Linked DNA regions of Homo sapiens: region 2 is linked to region 1. Evidence: fine-mapped expression QTL. A gene starts in region 1. The other region holds a variant in brackets. All regions are shown on one strand. Distances are from middle to middle.

Region 1 (2,900 bases):
AAATGCTGAGATGAAGTTAATCCTTGTGGCCCAGAGAGGCTGGATTCCAGCCATGCAGGGCCGACTCCCTGCTCTGCAGAGTCAGTCCTCTGCCCCTGCTCTTCCCTCTCCCTGGAGTGTTGTGCCACCTTCTCCCCTTGGGAACTGGTGTTGCTCCTTCAATGCCCGGTTCCTGTAAAGTCTCGCTTTTTTGTGCTTCACAGCACCTGTTTAAGCCTCAGTTATTTCCCTGGGGGTCCCCTCTCTGGATTGCCAGGGTGCGGGATCAGGGGCCTGGTTTTCTTTCTGTGTGTGACTTCTGAATCTGACACAGAATCTGGCAAACTGAGGACAGTTGGTAACTAATTGCTGCAGAAGAAAGAAAAGAAAGAGAAAGAAAGAAAAAGAAAGGAAGGAAGAAAGAAAGAAAGAAAGGAAAGAAAGAAAGAGAAAGAAAGAAAGAAAGAAAGAAAGAAAGAAAGAAAGAAAGAAAGAAAGAAAGAAAAGAAAAGAAAAGAAAGAAAAGGAGAGAGGAAGAAAAGGGGAGAAGAACGAGGTTCCTCTGCAGCCCAAATGACAGTGGGCAGGGTAGCAGCGGAACACCCTTCACCACTCTATCTCTTTCTCCCTCTCCCCACTCCCTGCCTCACACACCTCAGTTTGGAGTCAAGGGTGAGCTGGAACCCCTGAGGCCTCCTTTTGCATTTCCATGTCAGGTCAACTCCAAACAGGCTTTTTCCTTTGGATGAGTCCAGCAATAGAACTGACTACATAGATTCCAAGACCTGAAGTCAGAAAACGGATGCGGACCTCTTCCAACACCTCCTCTCCTTGCCTGACTTGCTGGATGGGTGGTGCCTCCCGCAACCCTTGGCTTCTGAGTCCTCAAAGGAGAAGACTGGCGAGCAGACGGTGAGGACCCAGCCTGCAATCACAGCTTATTACTCTGGGTGTGGGTGGGAGCGCAGTGGGCGGTCGAGGGTTGCGTTCCCGCCTCAAAACAAGGGATGGCGGAATCCCCCAACCCCTCCTACCCGTTCAGGCCGGGGATCGCCGAGGAGGTACAGCTCCTTTGGTGGGGGGCGGGGGCGGGGCCTGTCTCAGGGGCGGGGACCGGGGCACCTCCCTCCCGCGCTCCCCGCGCTCGGGCGCCGCAGAGCTGTCCAGCTTCAGTGCCGAACCGGCAGCCTCACGCGCGCACCGCGCCGCCTCCGCCCCGTCCCCGCGCTCCCTCCTGCCCGCCCGCCCCGCGCCCGGCCCCGCCCCGCCCCGCCCCGCCGCGGCCCGTCCACTGCTCCCCGCGGGCCAGAGCCGGCCGAGCTGCTGCCCGCCGGGGCTCTGAACGGCGCGGCGGGGCCGGGAGCCAGGGACCGGCCGAGGAGAGTGGCGGCCCCGGACGGCTGCCGGAGGGGCGGCCGCGCGTGGATGCGGCGGGAGCTGGAAGCCTCAAGCAGCCGGCGCCGTCTCTGCCCCCGGGCGCCCTATGGCTTGAAGGTAAGCACCGGCCGGATGGAGCGGCGGGCGACTCAGTGTCACGGGGAGAGGAGGAGGGACCTCCAAGGGGAGCGAGGCCAGGACCAGAAGTTTGTGCGGCCACTCCTGGCCGCCTGCTCGGGAGCGCCCGCCTGGGATCCGGCTCTGCATGGGCTCCCCGTCGGGCGGGGGCAGAGGGCGTCTGGAGCCCGCGGCTGCTATCCCCTCTCCCTCCTTCTCAGTAGCCTCCTCGCCACTTAGAAGGGAATCCTCTCCCCGAGCACGAGCGGGCGCAGCTGGGGCAGCCTCCCCGCGGGGCGCCCAGGGCAGCACGGCGGAGCCGCGGCATCGGAGGGCGGGAGGGAGGCCGCTCCCCACAATCTCGGGAGGGCACTTCCCCCAGCACCCAAGCGCGAGACCCGGGGCTCGCGGCCAGAGTTTCCGACTTCTTCCGGAGGAAGAAGGGCTGTTTTTGGCAACTCTGTGTTGGTGCGACCTGACCCTTTTCAGTTTCTAAGGCAGAAGCTAAGGATGGGGGAGAGGCAGATTCTGGCTGGATTCTCCCGCTCCCACGGTTGCCGCTGTCCTTGGTCCTGAACTTTCGTTCTCCTTCGCCTTCTCTTGGGTTGACACCTAGTCGGGGAGGGAGGCTTGGGTGCCAGACCCGTTTCTACCCGGCAGTGCAGGCGACGGTGGCGGCAGTAGCGGAGGGTGACCGCCCGGCTCTCGGCCCGGCTCTATGATGGACCGAGAGCCCCTCTAGGGTGGTATGCGGAGACAAGAGACACCTCTAAGCACCAGACAGAGCGCTTCCCTATCCCTGTCTGAGGCGGGCAGCCCTTGAGTGCTTCCTCTTGAAGAGCAGAGGTAAGAGGGTGCGTGTGCGTCTACATAACAGGCTTCACCATGGACACAAGTCACAGCAGTGCAGCTCCGTGGGGACAGGCGCTTGCTCTCAGCCACAAGGAAGCTGTCTGAGCAAGTCACTGTTGCCCCACCTGACACCCCACTACTTTTTTTTCGGTGGCTCTTGAGGTTGGGTGAGGGGGTGAGGGAGTGAGGTGCAAGGCACTTTGTGGATCCCACTCCAGATCCTTCTGCAGATCCAAGCCTTTCTGTATTTTGACCAGGCTACAAACCTTTTAGGCCAATCCTTGCTCCTCCTTAGGGAGCTAGATGTTCAACGATTCTCCCCACTCCCACCCTGCTTCAAATGCAAATATGCATGCTTATCTCTGATTCATCCTGCAGCATTAGGACCACTTGAAAAAGAAATCATGCTTATCGTCTTTCCCTCATGCAGCTGTTTGATGAGGGTGGCCAGATAGAGAGACTGTGGTCAGCATGACCAGTTTCAAGAAAATCAGCAAGCTGCTTTCCTGGGTTTCAGTCCCTGCCTTGGACTTCCCTCCTTAGTGTTCAAAATTCCTGGATTATTTGTTGCAGGG
Region 2 (2,822 bases), 220 kb before region 1:
GGGGAGGACACTGGTGGCCTATGATAGGAGGACAAAGAGGAACATTTCCTAGTTAGAAATTACAAACTCAGTTCACATGAGCCCTGTCTGTCACCACTTCACATCTGCTATTTGCCCTTCACAAGAAATGTAGGGTTGGTTATTATTGTCACAAGATTTGACATGGTACTCATCACCATTTTACAGGTTAGGAAACTGAGGCTTAATAAGGTTAAAGAGTCTTGTCCAAGGTCACATAAGTAATAAGCAGCTAAGTCAAGCCTTGAAACCAGGCTCCTGTCTCCAAGCTAAGTGCTCTCTGAATCCTGCCACACATTATTTGGATAATTCGGATATTTCAGGAAAGAGATGGTTGAGTTGCTCTGGCTAAGAGTTGCTTGTAGTCTGGAGAGTCTCCTAGAGAAGAGGGCTGTGGAATGGAGCAGCCCCTTCCCCAGATCCTGGGGATGGTTTGGTATGACTGGGGCACAAGCGGAGAGGGTCTTTGTGCCTTCCTAGGCTTCCTCAATCTGCCTATCAGCCTCCTGGGATAGAAAGGTGGGCACCCCCATTACCACATTTCCAATTTGAACTGTTCCTTCAGGCCCCTCCTGTCCAGCTCCTGTGCTCAGGAATGTGGCTGGAGTTGGGAAGGTTCTGACAGGGTTCTTGTCTTGGATACCTGAATGGGAAAATGGAAGTAGGGGTGGGGCTGACTCCTCCAGGAGAGCCGGGAGGGCTATGGATTTGGGAAACTAGGAGAAACTAAGAGGGTCTAGACATTGGACTGCTAGGGGCAAGAGGTGAGTAAAGAAAGAGAAGAGAGTTTTGGTCAAAAAAGGAACTAAGAGCTAAGAGAGAAGAGGGGAAAGAGGAGAGCAAGAATATGAATATGCAAAGCCCAGGCAGAGGGACCAGGGTGGAGAATACAGCAAACCTAGGAAGGAGCATGGGGTGAAGAACCCTAGTCACCCACACACTCACCTATCCGTTCATTCATTCATTGAGTGTGTATTCATTCAGGACACTTAGTGGGAACAGTGTGGCTTTCTCATCTGTAAACACACTATGTCCCAGTTGATCTGCAAGGACCATGAAGTCCTTCTGTTGCCCTCTGGGAGACTAGGCAGGAGGTGTGCTCCTGTCCTGGGGACCACTGATGAGGAGGGGTCTGAGTGTTTGGGTGGGGGCAGGAAGGAAATGGTGGTATTCTTCAGGCTGTGGCTACATGACAGCCTTAAGAACTGTCCACCACCCCCACCAGCCTCCCCCATTCTTCACGTCCTTGGATGTGTGTGGCTGCAGG[G/T]CGGCCCCTGCCCAGCTTCTTGTTGGTACCTCTGTTTTGCAGGAACAACTGCACTTCTGGTCAAGTTGTTTCCCTCAGATGCTCTGGTGAGTCATATCTTGGTCTAGGGGAGGTGGCGGTGAGAGGAAGGGGTGTTCCCCCTGCCTCAAGTGTGGAAGAGCCCTATGGTGAGACTCTGCTGGGCCTGGGGTAGGGGTCTTGCCCACCTGCCCATCTGCCTGCCAGGCCCCTTCTTGCAGTTGCTGTTCTGCCCCAGCCGAACCCTTTCTAAGCCTCCATCATGTCCCTCACCAGCCACAGATCTGGGCTGATGATCTCCTTCCTTCACTACCTGCCACTCTCTTCCTTGGCCTCTGACACCAACTCCATCTTTCTTCTGGAAAGCCCCAGAGGTGAAATTATTATTGGCTATTGAGTGACCTGTTAGCAGCTTCAGGAAACTAAGGGCAGGTGGTGAATCAGGTACCAAACGGGAAGCAATCTGTGGAGTTCCTTTCATTGGTCTTCCCGTTCATCTACCCGTCTCTTCATCTGTCCATTCACACATCCTTCCACACACCAACACTTCGACCTTTACTACAGGACAGGCATTCTGTTAGGTACTAGGGCTCCATTAGTGCAGATACAGTTTCTGCTTTCAGTGGGCCCACAGCTGGATGGGGCAGGCAGGGGTGAAATCAACACTTCTACCTTCCCATCCCCCATACTTAGGACCAGGAATAAGAAAGGAGAGCTGTCCACACTGGCTCTCTGGGGCTTAGCACTGGGCCACGCTTCCTGAGAGTTAGGACCATGCTGACACTCACCTCTCTCTCTCTTTCTATCTCACCCATCTCTGTTGGCAGAGTGTGGAGCGAGGCCCCTGGCTTCCCGGATAGTTGGTGGGCAGTCTGTGGCTCCTGGGCGCTGGCCGTGGCAGGCCAGCGTGGCCCTGGGCTTCCGGCACACGTGTGGGGGCTCTGTGCTAGCGCCACGCTGGGTGGTGACTGCTGCACATTGTATGCACAGGCAAGTCTCTGTGGCTGCTGAGGACAGAGAGCCTCAGTTGCCCTTTCTGTTCGGCTGTTGGTATGTCCTGTATCAAATGTTCGTGTCCAACTGTCTCCAGCTTTTTGCTCCAAAAGGGTAAGACTGGTGTTTGTGAAGTTCTCTCATTCAGTATCAAGAACAGATCTGCACAAATAACAGTAATAATATGAAGATTTGTTCTTTATATTCATCAGTTTTTTTTTTTTTTTTTTGAGACAGAGTCTCACTTTGTTGCCCAGGCTGGAGTGCAGTGGCGCAATCTTGGCTCACTGCAACCTTCACCTCCTGGGTTCAAGCGATTCTTGTGCCTCAGCTGGGCACCACTATGTTCAGCTAATTTTTTGTATTTTTAGTAGAGATGGGGTTTCGCCATGTTGGCCTGGCTGGTCTCGAACTCCTGACCTCAGGTGATCTGCCTGCCTCAGCCTCCCAAAGTGCTGGGATAACAGGCGTGAGCCACCGTGCCTGGCCTCATTAGCTTTTAAGTGTTAAAAATACTTTCACATTC

Which allele goes with the higher level. Alleles are on the strand shown, and positions count from the first base shown. SD is a standard deviation of normalised expression in the study named.
In carriers of allele T in region 2, the expression in prefrontal cortex of the gene that starts at base 1,151 in region 1 tends to be lower than with G alone (moderate effect, 0.52 SD a copy in ROSMAP).

What was found. PIP is the estimated chance that this variant, and not a neighbour inherited with it, causes the effect.
Region 2: its variant is fine-mapped to the expression of DRD2 in prefrontal cortex (ROSMAP, PIP 0.95).

Annotation. Positions count from the first base shown.
Region 1 is chr11:113,473,649-113,476,548 of GRCh38, reverse strand. It overlaps DRD2 (dopamine receptor D2), which reads left to right and starts at 1,151. Exons shown (of 8, transcript NM_000795.4): 1 at 1,151-1,473. It overlaps LOC105369501 (a long non-coding RNA gene), which reads left to right. Exons shown (of 6, transcript XR_948024.2): 6 at 696-1,020.
Region 2 is chr11:113,693,949-113,696,770 of GRCh38, reverse strand. It overlaps TMPRSS5 (transmembrane serine protease 5), which reads left to right. Exons shown (of 13, transcript NM_030770.4): 7 at 1,328-1,371; 8 at 2,131-2,293. Among named protein-coding and RNA genes, the nearest start is that of TMPRSS5, 11 kb to the left of the region's middle. The variant G/T (reference allele first, on the strand shown) is at 1,286.